Regions from separate parts of the Homo sapiens genome. Here region 2 is linked to region 1. The links come from fine-mapping of genetic effects on gene expression. Tissue or cell type: esophagus mucosa. Region 1 holds a variant in brackets; the other region holds the start of a gene. All regions are shown on one strand. Distances are between the middles of the regions.

What was found. PIP is the estimated chance that this variant, and not a neighbour inherited with it, causes the effect.
Region 2: it holds the start of KLHL29, and the variant in region 1 is fine-mapped to the expression of KLHL29 in esophagus mucosa (GTEx, PIP 0.98).

The regions. Positions count from the first base shown.
Region 1 is chr2:23,559,697-23,567,799 of GRCh38, forward strand. KLHL29 (kelch like family member 29) reads left to right here. Exons shown (of 14, transcript NM_052920.2): 3 at 2,456-2,785. The coding sequence starts at 2,501. Among named protein-coding and RNA genes, the nearest start is that of LINC02923, 180 kb to the left of the region's middle. RefSeq lists a silencer at 4,337-4,698. The variant G/A (reference allele first, on the strand shown) is at 4,701.
Region 2 is chr2:23,381,466-23,389,568 of GRCh38, forward strand. KLHL29 (kelch like family member 29) reads left to right here and starts at 3,714. Exons shown (of 14, transcript NM_052920.2): 1 at 3,714-4,315. It overlaps LINC02923 (long intergenic non-protein coding RNA 2923), which reads right to left and starts at 5,853. Exons shown (of 6, transcript NR_187213.1): 1 at 1-5,853. RefSeq lists silencers at 1,653-1,947, 3,451-3,800, 3,971-4,830, 5,071-5,190, 5,211-5,380 and 1 more and an enhancer at 1,653-1,947.

The DNA.
Region 1 (8,103 bases):
GCTGGGGGAAGGTGTGCGGCAGGCTGCAGGGAGGTGGGGGTGGTGCTTAAGAGAGAGGAGAGCTGCAAAGGTAGCCTTGGGAGTTATCCAGAAAGAGGGGATGGAGGGATGAGATCATCCGGGGAGAAGAGGAGGAGGAGATCTGGAACCCGGAGGAGCCCCAGCTTTTTAAGAATGAGCTGAGGAAGAGGAGCCCGCCAAGGAGACTGAGAAGGAGCAGCCGAGAGGGAGGCGGAGGGCTGGGAGAGGGCTGGCATCACAGAAACTGCAGAGGAGGGTTCCGGAAAGCAAGGAAGATCAGCCACGTCGCAAGTGAGGGAAGTTGAGGACAGCGGCATAAATGTCCCCTTGGATTTAGCGAGTAGGTCACCCATGACTTCAATGAGAACAGTTCCCATGGAGTGGCCAGGGCGAAGGCCACAGCGGAGCAGGTCACAGAGTGAACAGGACGAGGAAACTGGAGCTAAGTTTAGACAATGCCATCAAGAAGTTCAGCCGAAAAAGTTTATGTGGGGAGATCAAAAGGGAATGGATTTTTATTTTTTAACCATGTAATATTGGATAGGCTTTTTTTTTTTTTTTTTTTTTTTTTTGAGACGGAGTCTTGCTCTGTTGACAGGCTGGAGTGCAATATCGCGATCTCAGCTCACTGCAACCTCTGCCTCCCAAGTTCAAGTGATTCTCCTGCCTCAGCCTCCTGAGTAGCTGGGACTACAGGCACGTGCTGCCACTCCCAACTAATTTTAGTGTTTTTAGTAGAGATGGGGTTTCACTGTGTTGGCCAAGATGGTCTGGATCTCTTGCCCTTGTGATCCGCCTGCCTTGGCCTCCCAAAGTGCTAGGATTACAGGTGTAGGCCACTGCATCCAGCCTGGATAGACTTTTTAAAAAGAATTTTTGTGTCATGGTGTAAGCCAGAAAGCATAATGGTGAAATAAACAGTGACACCACATCCAGCTGAAGAAGTTATGGTCAGCTCTGTTTCAGGCGGGGCTGCAGGCTTCACCTGGGCTGCAGGGTGGGTTCAGGTCTGCCCAGTGTGCCTGGCAGAGGGGATGATGGCCACCAGGGCACAGGCCAGCATGCAAGTAGAACATGGGTAGGAGGCTGCTTGGGTTGGGCACAGGCCCTGGCTCCATGGCACTAGAAGTTGACAACTAGGTCTGGATGTGCAAAGTCTGCAGTAAGAACAGGCTTTATAGATAGATATTTTTAAAATAAAGTGGCCCGTCTGTCCACTGGCCAACAATTCCAGGGTGCCTCCCCAGGGCTGAGCTGGACTGGCAGGATAGGAAAAGGAGCTGGGAACCCGGACCTCCGGGGACTCACCCCCAGACTGGAAAACAGTTGGAGAATGGAAAAGGCCAAAGGCAACCAAGCTGTGCCTGAGCCATGCCCAGGGCTGTGGGTGTGATGCAGACCCCTACCCTAACCCACCACCACTTGTGCCCTGGCACTGCCATGCCCTCTCCCCTCTGTCTCTGCCTCTCCATGGCCTCTGAGACCGACAGCTTCCCCTGCGTCTTTACAGCGTTCTTGACCGAGAGTAACACCAGGCCCTGGATGGGCAGGGAACCAGGCAAGTCATGGTAATACTGAGCAAAATGCAATCTTTGGTGATTCAGAAGCCCTTCCAAGTATCATGGTGTGTCCAGGTCTCCATGACAACATGGAAGGGCCTTATGCTCAGAGGCTCAGGAGAGCTGTGTGGGAGATAGTCTGGTTAACAGAGGCCAGGGTACTCCGGGTCTCTGATGCCGCCCGAGATCAAATCATAGGGCTGTGATTATGAAAGGGAACTCAACTCCTGGAGGCTAACACCCTTTGCGACTTGAGTTGTGCATTTAGCTAGGATCTAAAGGCTGGGGATCCTGGACTCTTTATCACTTTCTAGTACTCGAACCTCAAGGGATAACTTATTCTCAGTGAGGTCCCTCGACCCTCAACTGGGAACCATCCATGCCCTGCCGCCTCACAGGCTACTGTAGGAGGAAGAGAGATTTATGTAAAGGGCTTTGTCCACTATAAAGTGAGTCTGCACACGTGGGTGGCCGCATCCTATCACGTGTTGGAGGAAAACACGTCCTGAGGAGTTCACGGCTCTTTTTTCACGGTGGGGTGGGAGGGGATAAAGTCCCATCCATAATTAAAATATGCACATTTGTGTCATTCAGGGCAGTGAGATGTGGCAGAACAAACAGTATCACTTTTAACTGTGACTGGGTTCAAATCCTGCCTACTTACTTTGGCCACGTGATCCTGGGCAAATTGTGTATTCCTTGTCTGTGAAGTGGGGCTAATTAATGATCCATGCTTTGTGGGCTAGCGTGACTCTGAAATGAGCTAATGTTTGAAGGCCTGTTATTGAACCCAGAGAAGGGGCTTCATGGATGCTGTCAGTTGTCGCTGCCTGCTCCAGTCCTAAATCACCCTTCTCTCCACCCTGTCACCACAGGTCCGGGCTCTGTTTCCCTGTGAGAAGCCGCCTCGGCCCACCGAGATGTCCCGGCACCATAGCCGCTTCGAAAGAGATTACCGGGTGGGCTGGGACCGCCGCGAATGGAGCGTCAACGGGACGCATGGGACCACCAGCATCTGCAGTGTCACCTCGGGGGCCGGTGGCGGCACAGCCAGCAGCCTCAGCGTCCGGCCCGGCCTCCTGCCGCTGCCCGTGGTGCCCTCCCGGCTGCCCACCCCGGCTACAGCTCCTGCTCCCTGCACCACCGGCAGCAGCGAGGCCATCACCAGCCTCGTGGCCAGCTCTGCGTCTGCGGTCACCACCAAGGTAAGATGTGGTGTCATCTCTGAGCAGGAGCCGGACAGAGGGGCCCTGCCTCCCTGCAGGCTCAGGCCAGCCCCACAGGCTCCTGTGGGGCAGCCTGTGCTCCACGCCCCGAGTCCTCCAGAGTCTTGTCCTTCCAGGACCTGGGCCTGGAAACTGTTTGCGAGCATTCATGCGGGTTTTATTATCCATGAAGTCTTTCTCTGTGACTAACTTGTAGGAAGACAAGCAGGTGCTGAGGCCACTCATTGTCCTATGCCATGTTGATTAGATGCTATTAATGAGTGAAGTAACAGTGGACCTCCAAGATGGCAATATGGGGTTCCTAAATAGATAAATTGAGACCATGCAAGCATCCCTGGGGGTGCCAGTAACTTGGGTGTGCAAGAAGATACTGACAAGCAGTAACAGTCATAAAGGGTGATAAACCCACACTTTATTAACCACTGGGCCTCGTGTTCTCATATCCGTTGTCTCTTCTGAGCCTTGCCACAGCACGGTGAGGTCAGTACTTTTATCATCCCTGCCTTACAGTTGAGGACACTGAGGCACAGCAAGGGCTCAGTAGGCCTTCTAAGGGCTGGTCCAAGGCTGTGGGACCTTTCTGCAGAGGACCCAGGACTTGTCCCCACAGCTGGCTTCAGGGATGTCAGCGCCAGGTCATTCCCGTTTCTTTCAGAAGAGGTGGCTCCAGCCTTGGGAATGGCAACAGAGGCCAACCTGTGTTGCTGAATGGAATGTGGAAAACAGTGTTGCCAAGGCTCTTGCTTGGCCTTGGGCTGAGCTCGTCCTCCATCGTGCTGGCTGCTCGGAGCCCCTCAGGCAGCCTGAGTCCTGGAGGGCCGGGCCCCTGGCCATGGCTGTGGTAGGAAGGCCATCGGTCCCCATCCTGCTTCCTCACCGAGCAGGGGCTGTGCAGGCTGCCTTTGCCTCTGCTGGCCATTCGGAGCTGCCTCCCAGGAGCCCCCTTGGGGCAGTGTCCGTGTACATGCGTGTATGTGCCTGCATGCGTGTGTGTGTGCATGAGTGTATGTGTGTGCACATGTGTGTGTGTCTAGGCTTTTCTTTTCCTGCTTTCAGAAAAGTTGCCAGAGAAGTTAAAGGCGGGGAGCCCCAGCCCGGCCATTGTGAGGTGGCTGTGGTGCTGGAAAGCCGCGCTCCAGGTGTGCTGCGCCTTTGTCTCCTGGTTTTCAAAACTCCCTTTCAGCCCTGCTTCCCATTAATAACTGTGAGTGTTGCCGGCCACAGAGCCTGGCAGAGGCTGAGACAATGGAGCTATTGGAGGCTGGCTCGGAGCGCACTGACATCTTGCTGCAGTGCCTTATTGATTTTATTTTCCTGTTATGAAAACACCACCCCACTGAGGCGGGGAGGGAAAGAATGTTGGACAGGGGAGAGGAGATGGAGGATTATTTGGGCACGCTGCCCCCAGGCCAGCCAAACACATTCCTCCCCTGGGCGCCAGCCCGAGCGCTGGTCTGACTCAGTGACCTCTGCCCAGTAGGGCCAGCCGCTGGACCTGCTGGCCACATCTGGCAGGCGCTCTGCAGGGCCAGCTGTTGGCCATATGGAGAATGGCAGCCGCTGGAACCGACTGCTCGGGGCTCCAGGTGGGAGAGAGAGGCTGGGCCCGGAGGCCGTCTTGAAAGTGTCTGTCCTTTTAAGGATACATGCCTTTGTAGGGATGGTGTTGGGCTGCTCTGGGGGATGAAGTGGAGGGGCTCGGTGCTGGGGCTCCCCCACAGGGCTGTGCTGCCTGCAGAGCTCCCGCTTTGCTCCAGAGTGGCTTGATATTCACCATCCTTGACTGGCCTGATCCCAAACCACAGCCACATGAGAGGAAGGGAACCCAGTCTCAGACAGAAAACAACAGCTGGGGCAAGGACTGGGCAGGGTGGCCAGGAGGGGGAGAGGGGGC[G/A]AAAGTTCATTCCTGTGAGGACAGCCCGCTCCTTGGCATGTCACAACAGAGGAACTGAATTCTGCCTCCAGCCCGGCCTGTTTCCTGCAGGGGCTTGTTTGATTCCCCGGATTAAGCCCTGGTCCCTTGGTGCCCAGGAGCACTGGGTGGGGGGAAGGGAGGACAGCAGTGCTGGCTTCCCGAGCACCCCTGGCAGATTTGGGCCACAGTGCCTTCCCGCCGTTCTAGCCTGGCTCCTGCCCACCCAGAGGCCTGTCCCCTAGCCTATGTGTCTGACCCCGTGCCAAGACCACATCAACTGATGGGCAGGCCCGGGCCCAGGTATTTGCGGTTTCCCCGGTCAACAATGTGGGTCTTTACTGAGCAGGCAAGAGCTGGCTGGCTCTTGCCCTCGGGGAGCTCACGGCTCCTTGTGTATAACAAATCTGTGGCCTGGACAGTGTGACCAGATGACCCAAGAATGTCTCTCCCCCTGAAGTTATTGGCAGGGGAGGCCTAGTGCAGTGGCTACAGCCAGACTTTGGAGACAGACTGCCTGGATTTGAATTCCCTTCTACCGCTTGCTATCTGAGTGACCCTGGACAGGTTACCTAACCTCTCTGGGCGTCACTTCTGTAAAATGGGAAGAGGTCGTTGTACTTGCGAGCAGAGTTGTTGTGAGGACTGTGTGGGTTAAAACCTGTGTGAAGTGCTCAGAACAAGACAGAACCTGGCATGTGGTATTTCGAGTCTCATATTGGTGCTGACCTCCTCCTATCACCGCTGTCACTGTCATCCAGGTGAGGCCTATGGGACAAGGCTCTACCCTCTTAGGGAAAGGTGTTCATGTCCTTTTTTTTTCTTCTTCAGTAGAGATGGGGTTTCACCATGTTGGCCAGGCTGGTCTTGAACTCCTGACCTCAAGTGATCCACCCACCTTGGCATCCCAAAGTGCTGGGATTACAGACGTGAATCGCCGTGCCCAGCCTGAAAGGTGTTCCTTTCTAACCTCACCAAGAGGAAAAGGCAGGTCTTCAGATAAGACACAGCAGCCAGGCCCCAAGAAAGCAAGGAAAGGAAAGAGCATCTCAAACCTACCCCTTGGCTGGGACTCCAGATGCTCCGTAGGCAAGAGGGAGCTGGGGGGAAGAGGCCGTCTAGCGGGCTCCAGACCGAGACTGGTAACAGCCAGGTGACCAAGGGAAGGGAGTTTAAAGCTTTTTTCAGCTGTGGCGCCCTTTCCTCTAGGGAAAGCCCATTGTGGAAACAGCTGAAACTGCACTCCAGTGGATGGTGGGGTGGGTGGGCGAGGTTGGCCGGGTAGAAGCCAGGAGCAGAGCTGTGTCCGAGCTCACCAGAGTGTGGGGACAGCTGCTGGAATGTATCCACCGGGCTTCCTGGGTGAAGGGTCTAGAGCCACATGTGGACCAGAGCCACCCTCGGAAACTCAGCAACTGTCCCTGAGGAAAGTGACTGGGGGACTAGTGTCAGTACTGTGAGGCCTTAGTGTCCCCTCTTGGCTAGGCAGTGCGCAGGGTGAACATCACGTGCCCTGGGGGCTGGGGCATCCCATGCCATCACCCTCCCCACCCAGCCCTGTGGGCCTGGTCACCTTCCCAGGCAGGGGCCGGCTTCTGCCAGGCTCTTTGGGTGAGGAGGCTGGCTGTGCTCCCAGCAGCTGGCCGGTGAGGTGATGACAATTCTTTCTGTCACTGCTGCCTTCAGGCCTGAGTTGGTTTTTCTACTTCTTCATTTGTCTGTGGCCTAAAGATTCCTCACGTGTCTTGAGGAAAGGCCAGTTGGACAAGCAGACTCCTGGGCTGCTGAAGTACAGGGAGGGTCTGGTGGGCTCCCCCAGCCCCGCAACACACACTCATGGCTCAGACCAATCAGCAGCCTCCCCAGGACACAAGTTCCAAGAGCCTAACAGGAGCAGAGTGACCACGTCCTCCAGCCCCTCATTCTACAGGTCACAGTAGTGAGGCCCAAAGAAAATGTGGCCTGCCAAGGTCACCCAGTGAGTTAGAATCAGAACCAGCCTGGGCCAGCTCCTCTTCCCACTCCAGGCTGCCTGGTAGAGCATTCACCATGGTAACCATGATTGCAGCATTGTTATGGTAACTTTTCCATCTGCTCATCCACCCAGCTGATAGCAAGCAAGAGATTTCAGGCCAGAAAGTGGGCACATTTACCTCTGTGGTATAGGTGAGAAAATTTAAGCCAAAGGTTATGTCAACTCAGCATTTCACCACTGCTAAGAGCTTCAAGCTTTTGAGTCTGACAGCACTGGGATTGAATCCTAGCTCCGCCACTTAGAAGCTGAGTATGTCTCTGAACCTCAGTTTCTTTGTCTCTAAGAATTGGGAATAATCATAGAATCCTCCTCATGGGGATGATGTGAGAACTGGTTAAATTAATATGCATAGAAAAGCTTAAAACACTACCTGCCATTTGGTAAGCACTCGATAAAAGTTAATTTTAGAAAGATAAACCATTGACTGGGTCTACCCAGTTATTCATACATTTGCGGGGAAACCTGTCCCCCCCTGGTGGTTGGTGCTGGAGGCTGAAGAAAGGTGCATTGGCCTGTCCCCATCCCCTGTCTGATGTGGCATGAGGTCATGCTAAGGAACTGGGATGGCATCCCATCCCTGGCCCACCACTGTGTGTCTGGGCTGTAAATGGTCAGGACCGCAGGGGCAGGGTGCTCCTGAGAAGCAGAACTGCGACTCCACTGCCAGGCCTGTTTGTGGGCCTGAAGGGAAGCCCCAGTGCCCCACAGTTGCTGCTGCATGAAATTTAAATTATTCTCAGCAAACCTGCTTGACAGATGAAACAGAAAAGGGACGGCTTCATAAAATGCAATTTTGTTCCTGAAAGAATGGACTCTGCAGAATCCTCGCTGATGTCTGTGAAATGTACTGGGAGCTTTTTTTCCTAGTGGTCAGGAGCACTCATGCTGAAACATTCCCATCGTCCCTCAGAGCTAAGCCCTTGAAAATAAATCTAGCTGGGAAGCAGAGCGACTTCGCCTGTGTCGGAGGCCCGAGAAGAACCAAAAGGGGCTATGAAATCTGCAGGCTTCATCGTCAACACTCAAAACACCCGGGTTTTGACATTTATGAGCATTTAGGGCTATCGGGGTGGATATGTGTCATCATAGAGACAACGCTGGAGATGATATCTTCCCCATGCGCTCCAGCTTCTCTGGAGGAATGCTCCCCTTGGGGGAGATGATCTGGGATTTCCGTGGGGATCATGTGAGTGACCGCAGGGCCAATGTGGCAGCCCCTCCTGTTGTGTGCTTCTGGGGCCCATGAATGGAGAGAGGATGCTTTTGCACAGAACTCTCATTCCTCTTGTATTCACATTGAAAATCGAAGGCTGCCTTGCCGAGTGGGCTCAGTTGGGAGAATCATTCAAG
Region 2 (8,103 bases), 180 kb before region 1:
GCCTTATGTGGGATTTATTAATGCTTTTGATGCCAAATAGGGGTGGTTTTAATAGAGTATAATGTGTTTAAAAAAAAAAAAAAAGAAAAACCAGCAAACACAAAACCCCAACCAGGACAGAGGCTGGCAGCTGCTCTGTTTACACCCACCGTGCTCCTGGAAACAGATGTCCTGTCAAACCCGAAGGTTTCTGATGAGGCTTCCACTCTTCCGAGTGACCTGAGTGTTCAGTAATCAAAGGGACCTGTGCCCTTCTACATTAGTGCTCTCTGTTCTATGACTGATCTCCAGTTATGTGTCTGGGGTAAAGACTTTTGCTGATGAAGGCAAAAATCAGCATCTACTGTATCTACTCCAAGGGAAAAGCACTGGGCTAATGACAAAAGAAACTGCATTTGTGTGTTTGGTGGGGTAAAAAGAACAGAGGCTTTGGGACAATCAGGCTGAAATTCCAGCACTGTCACTTACTGTGTGATTGCAGGTTCTCATCTACCCTCTCTGGAACTCAGTTTTGGGGGCTGATAACACCAATTCCACAGGTTGCTGTGAGGATTAACAAGATATCATGGGTAGAGTTCTTGGTACAGTGCCTGACATATAGTAGCCACTGGGTAAAGGTCCTTTTGTTGTGGCTATTATCATAAACACAGACAAGGACAGAAGTCCACCTTGGCCACTGTGGGTTTATGTGGCACCCCAGGTGTTCCTGATGTGACTTCCTCTGGTTCCTCCTTGGGTGATGGTGGCCTTTCCAGTACAAGTCCTTGTCTGATTGACTGCACAGATAATGGTCTATGATCTGAGCGGGGAATGGATGTCCTGGAGTGTTCCAGTCCACTTCCCTATGCACTATGAGTCCGCTCCTTCACTACCCATCTGCTTGGAGTGTACACATTAGTCCTGATCCCAGTGCCCAGATTGGGGCTCAGGACAGGGAGGGTTGGCTTTTGGAGAACACACCACCAAGTCAATCCTGTGTTTCATGGAGAAATCTTTGACCATGGTGTAAGAGGTTTCTGGGCACAACACACGAGTCCCATGAACCACACAGAGAGATCCATGCCAGTCATGGGGCCCATCCCATGGGCCACAGAGTAGAGCAAAGAATGACCCAAAAAAGATCCCAGACACCAGCAAGATCTACGTAGAGAGAGAGAGAGAGGAGACCCCTGACACAATGCAAATCCAGTTTATGTTGCCAAGACACTAGATGCGCTGGGACAGATCATGTGAACAACAGCACTCTGAAATGGAACTCATATGCAGACCAGCGCAGACCCTTCATAAATGGCTGTGTCCACACTAAACAGCTCCCAGCAGGGCAGAGCATCAATGACGAGGAAGCCTTGGATAAAACGAGGATGGGTGAGGACAGGGTAGACAAGCCCACTGGGAGTCTAATTCACACAGCTTTTCTCATTCTCCCTGACAAGCTGGCTCCCCTGGTGAGCTGTTACCAAACTTCAGCCCTGAAGAGTTTGCGGTGCCCCAGAACCAGCGCCCTTCGCACCACCATGGCCCGAGTAGGTCCTCCTCTGGATAAGACCTCAGCACAGCTCTCTTTTCTGATGCTGCCAGCAGGGAAATTGGGAGCATCCTTTCTCCTTCATCTGGAGAGGTAGCTGAATAAGGATTCTTGGAGTTCCTATTTTCTTCTTTCAACTGAGGATCATTCAAAATCATCTGTAAGACACTGTGAGTGCCTCACATTGCCAGATCTTAACCTATCCCAGACCCTGCAAACCTTGGCCACATTTCTGTAGTGCCTACAGCTGTCACATAGGGCGCTACTCCAGAATACGGCTGGGTGGACTTCTGCATGTTCACAGTCAGTGCATCCATGGAGATTATCTCAGAGGACAGCTTCCTACAGCGTGGATGAACAGACACACGCCTGTGGCTTTGTTCTCCTTCTTTTTGCATTGGGTTGACCTGTGTATCAATTTGAAATCCCAAGAAATCCCTCTTTTTTCCATTTTGCTATCTAGTACTCTTCTATCACTTTTCATATACCATTTGAAGGACATAGTACTCAAACCAAAGCTATCGATCACCTTCAGGTGTTGTCTGAGGACCCTTGGGGAGCTTTTCTCCCCCTCCCCCCCACTCCTGCTCCCCTTTTCGGCACCTCTGTCACCCTCTCTTAAGGTCACGCCAGTTTTCCTGGCTGTCGTCCTCATGAAGGGTGGCTTCCTCCCTGAAGTGCTCCGCTCTGTCCCCTCCCTTGAGTCCCGGGCTTCACACACACAAACTCTGTTGGATGTTTTTTCCAGGAAATGCAGTTATTCTGACACTAGTGGGCCATTTCCCCGGCGTCCTCATTCCATTTCTGACAGTGCTCCTGCTACCCTCAGTAGATTATTATTATTTATTATTTATCAGCCACGACACTGTACTCTGCTTCCTACAAAATATTAAAGAAGACACAATCCGTGCGCTGAGTTTACAGCCAAGGAGAGCAGAGGCCTGGATCAGACATCACAGGGGGGGAGCTGAGAAGAAAATATTTACCGGCTCAGTCCTCCTTGGCCCTGGTAGATGGAGGCAAGGACTGGCAAAGCCCTCCCCAGGCCAGCTCCTCCCAGCTGGGCCCCCACAGCCAGCTCCCCACACTACCTACAGCACCCCAACTCCAATTTCTAGCAAGGCCTCAGGCCTCAGGCCTTTACCCGGGGGAGCGGAGGGAGGGTGGAGGATGAGGATTGGGCCCTCAGGCCTTTACATTCAGACAGGGGTGGAGGAGGAGGGCAGGTACAGATATTTCCTCTGAAACTCAAAACCAGGTAAAGGGGATGTAGGGGAGGAGGGAGAGGTCGGGGAATAAAAACCAGATTAGGAGAGCGGTCGGGGTGGAGAAGACTGTGCCCAGAGTGAAATATTCTAGCATAATGGAAAAGCCCTCATTGGGGGTCCCACACGCCTCTGGCCAAATCTCTTCTATTAGGGTTAGAAGTTAGGGTCTGTGTAGACAGCATGTGTAGACCGAGAGGTGGTGGGACTGAGAAGTCAGTGTAGACAGTGTGAGAGAGAGCGAGCTGTGGTGGGGGTGAGTAGTCGGTATAGACATCAAAGGCTGGTCAGGCTGTTAAACAGAGAAGGCTTCCTGGATTCCTAAGGGTCAGTATGAACAGAAAAGTCGCGCGCCCCAGGAGAGGCAGGGCTGACTCAGAAGGCTGGTGGACACTTTGCAGGGCTCTCCCTGGTCCTTCAGAGGTGTGGACAATTCCTGCTCCTTTCCAAGGCTGGAGTGTCATAAAGAGGGCGGAAGCTGAAAGACGATTGGACTTTTTCCTTCTCAAACTTTTCCGCCAGTTTCCTCAGGTGTTGAGAGCAGACGGGGAGCTCGCCTCAGTCCCGGGCCCCCAACCCTGGGCCAGCAAGGCCAGGAGGCCACGGCGGAGCAGCCCGTGCCACGCGCCGTGCGTCTGCCGGGCGCGGCCGCGGAGCCAGGCGAGCCGGGGGCCACCGCGGGGGGCGGGGGCGGCGGACGGACGGACCGACGGACACACCCGCGAGCACTCCAACCTCGGACCCGGCGCGCGGCAGCCGGGAATCCCTCGGGCCGGGGAAACTGCGCACGGGGCCCGGCCTGGCCGGGCCGGGCCAGAGGGCCCCGCCTCCCCCACCCGCCACCCCCGCCCACTCGGGCGCCCGTGATTGGCTCCGCCCGCCCCTGGCTGCGCGCCGAAGCCCGCCTCCCTCGCAGCTAAAGCAGACGGTACCCGGAGCGGAGCGAGCCAGAAGGGAGCATGGTCCCCGCGCCGCGGCCGCGCCAGCCCCCGCGCCGCCGCCGCCGTCCCCGCCACCGCGGATCTCGCCGCAGCTCCAGCCCCGGCCCCGGCTCCGCAGCGCCCGTCCGCAGCCCCGGCGGTCGCCGCGCTTGAGCGCAGCCCCCGCCCGGAGCCCGAGCCGCGAGCCCGGAGCCAGCCCCAGCCCCGCGGCCGCCGCGGCTGCGGGGAGAGGGCGGGGGCGATGCTGCCGGAGCCGCCGCCGCCGCCGCCGCCTCGATGAGAGCCGCGCCGCACCGCTCATAGCCGCACAGGCTGACAGGCAGGAGGACCGACTTCCCTCTCCCGGGCATCCTCCCTGGGCTGCCGGGAGGCGGCGGCGGCGGAGGAGGAGGAGGAACGAGGGGAGAAGGCGGAGAGCAGGAACGCGAGGAGGAGGACCTGGATCCGTTTCCTCCGGCCAGGACCCGAGCGGCCCCAGCCACCGCTACCCGCCGGCGCTGTCCGCTCTCCATCAGCCCTCCTGCGCCCACCCGCGACCCCGGGCTCTCTGCGCGTCGGGCCGGGGCCGGAGCCGCGCGCCGGAGGTAAGAGCCGGGCCGGGCTGGAGCGCCTCGGATGCGGCGCCGGAGGGAGACCCAGGTCCTGGCCGCCGCGTGGGGCCGGGCCGGGCCGGGCGTGGGAGCGGGGCCGGAACCCGGAACCCTGGGCTCGGCTTCGGCGGCGGCGGCGGCGACAGGAGCCTCCCGCGTCTGGACTCGCAGGCTGCAGGAGCCCTTGCGCCTGCGCTGCTCCAGGGGGAAAAAAAGGGGGGGAAAAAACTTCCTGCCCCCGGGTGTGTATGCACCGGGGCTGCCTGGGGCCACTGTCACGGTGTTCGGAGGTGCTGGAGGCTTGTGTGACCCCTGGCCGGAGCAGCCCCCCTGCTGGGCCCGGCGGCGCGCGCCCCTCTCCAGGCCACGTTCCCCTGAGCGGCCCAGGGCCCCGGCCGGGCAGGAGACCTGGAGGCGACGGAGGGCTGGCCCCCAGGGGCGGCCGCGCGCACTGTCCTTTGGGGAGGTGCGCGCCTCTGTGCAGCGAGAAGCCAGGTTGGGGTTTTCTGCCCCTCGCGTCCTCTGATCTCGCATTTGGGGACTGGGTCTCTTTACTCAATCCCAAGTAACTTTCGAGGTAGATGAGCTCGAAAACCGTCGGGAGGGAACCCGCACAGACCTTATTGTGACCCACCCCACCCCGACACACACACGCACACTTCCCTTGACACCTTGTGGGTGCCAGCGTGTTGTGGGGGGACGCGGAAAGGAGAGCTCACGGGGACGGCGAAGCGGCCAGGAGGTGGTGTCGTTGGGGAGGGGTTGTTGATGTGTGGGACAGGGTGGACCTGGAGATGTGTAGTGTGGGAGTGTGAACGCGCGCCCCGATGGCCTCGGGGGGCCGGGGGAGCCCAGGGCTCGCGTCCCGGTCTCCGTGGCCTGGAGCGGGCTGAGAGCGCTAGGGTTATCTGCGGTCGCCGCGCGGGTGCCCGCGCTGGGCAGCGTCGGCCCCGGGCCCCAAGGGAGGGACGTGCTCGCCTGGGGCCGGAGCGCGGGGCTGGGAGCCGGGGTAGGTCGGAGGTGGCTCTTAGGGCAGGTCGCCTCTGCGTTGCCTGGGGAAGGCGGGGACGCGCTGCCTGCCTGCGGCCAGCCGTCTCGGAGGAGGGGGTGGCGGCCACGCGCGAGTCTCGGATGCCTGGGTCCACCCGCTGAGAAGCCAGTTGTCGTCCCTGGGCTGTGGAACCAAGCGGCAGACGCGGTCCGTTGGCGGGCCCTCGCGCGGGCCCCCAGAGATGCTGATGGGTAAGGAGCTGCCGCCGCCGCCGCTGCCATCCCCGCCGCTCTGCAAACGTTCTCCTCCCTCCCTCCCGTGCTTGCGCCGCGGCGCGCCCCGGGCGAATCGTGGACGCAGGTATTTATGTAGCATTAGGCGAGACCTCGGCGCTGGAGGGACCAGACCGTGGAGGACGCCGAGCTGCTGCTGCCTGCGAAACTTCCACTTCGGCAGCTCAGCGGCATCCCGGCCCGCTGCTGCAGGTTCCAGCCTCTCTCCAGTCCAGCAACGCTGGGATTCGGACTCCTCTTGCAATGACAGATCTGTCCTGGTTACGGCTGTATTTATACTAGTTTCAGTCTCTTTAAAGTCATCTGTCTAGTCACTACAGAGTTTCTTCCTCGCCGTGTGGTCTTATCACTAACTCAGCCCTGGGAGGGCAGATTTGAGGAATTGCTTCATTTTCAGATGAATGACAGCAGACTTGTCCCACCTCATTCCTGATTTATTATTATTATTATTATTATTATTATTATTATTATTATTATGGAAAGAAGGTATAGAGCTTTTTAATTTTTTTGTGAGGGAGGAGAATGAACAATTTTATAGATTGTTCTTTCCGACACTTAGAGAAAACATGTCCAGTAAGCACTAGTGAATACTTTAAAGGCTGGTTGGCATGCGTGTATTTGATTAGTCCATAATCTAGGTGTTTATACAGGTATGGAGCTGTGTGCTACTGATGAATAGTCTCCGTCCCATACATTGTGCTGGAGTGCACTTGATTTATCACCCTGCTATAAATCAGGGAATTACTAGCACATGTGCCTTTTAAACTCTATATGAATTTAATGGCATTTAAATTGGTTTATGGGCTGATGCATCTAACCAATTTTAATAACTTTTCTGCACAAACATCTTATAAACCATATTTGCCTGTGATTAAGAAAAACATTTTCTTCTCCTCGGTCTCTCGGTTATGGAAATTTATAGGTCTCCAACTTTCATTTGCAAGCAGCAATCCAAACGAAATACCTAGAGTTTTACTGAAATAAAATATCCTATGGTAGCCATGGTAACAAATAGATTAAGGGTTATTGGTTTTCATCTGAATGTGATGGGGGGTGGGGATCTAGTGTTGTGTCTTTTTAATTATGTTTCTAATGAGTGGTGGTCATACTTCAAGTACTCAGTGTGGGAGACAAGCAAGACTGAGAATTCAGGTTTGTGGGAGGTTTATTGAAACAAAGACTAGTAGAGCCCAGGAGAATGACTTTTGCTAACTGCAGCTCCTCATATCTAGGAACAAAATGGATAAAAACCTTTTTTTTGTTTTTCCAGTAGATGAGCATTGAGTCAGTCACTTTAAGACCGGAAAATGCATTTTGCTTATAAACTATTACCAAAGGAACCTCTAAATCCAGCCTGTTTTCTAGGAATAAACATGTTGGAAGTGTGGCGGTTGGTGTGGATTGAGTGTCACCGTTGTTATCAACACCTGTCAGTTTAAGTGAGGCACATCATTAGTCTATTCAAATCTTGCCTATTTCAGTATTCATGCATTTCCATGGTGATCCATTCATTTTTATTTAGTCAACCTTATAAATCTTTGGCATCAATTTTAGTTGTGCCATCTTTTTCCTTCTTTTATCAATTGATTTGGCTACAAACCATTCCTAGTTTAAAGTATCTCCTTCTTTTTTCCTGCTAGTTTCTAAAAGCCTACACTATTCCCAGCTACATACAGATATAAAGGAGTTAATTTTTTTTCATCAACTCAAATGGCACCCCTAATACTAATGTCATTTTTTGGCATCTCATTTGATATGTATGTGTACATGGGTTTTTTTTTTCTTTCTTTCAGCAGGCTTACTGTAAAGCTTTCTCACTTTTTGGCTGGGAGACATCAATTCAGTCCAGCAGAACTAACTAAAGTTTTTCCTTCCTTCCTCCTTTTTGCTTCCTTCCTTTTTTTCTTTCTTTCTTCTTCTTTTTTTTTTTTTTTTTTTTAAAATCCCAGTACTGTTATGGCTTAGGCATTCTTTGTGTCATCGGTTGTATCTGGCTTGGAGAGACTTCGAGACTATATTAGAGCAGGTCTGTCCTGGGGTCTTTTCTAGTAGTGGTCAAAGCCAGAAGTTTTCAGAACAGCAGAGGATTTTCCAAATACAATATATATTTAGTCACAGCATATAGTGCCCCTAGGATCATAGTAACATTGTAAGTCCACTGAACAGGCAGTTTTACTTAAATGCGAGTGATGATTTTGCTCACCCACTTTCAACTTAGCTTTCTAATGATGCAATCCCATGCTAATCACAACCCTGTATATTTCAGAAATATCAAGGCAAGCATTAGCACGCTACTGACTTATTAGGATCAGGCAAAGTAATTGGAACACTTAAGTTCAAAGTCAGATGAAGAAATGGAATTATAACCAACTTTGTGATTCTGTAATCAGTCAACTAAGTGCCTACTTGGGGATAGGAGGAGGAAGAAACATCATGAATAAGAAATCCAGCCTTTAGTTGTGCTGAATGAGGATAAACCAAGGCAGTTACTGTGTAAG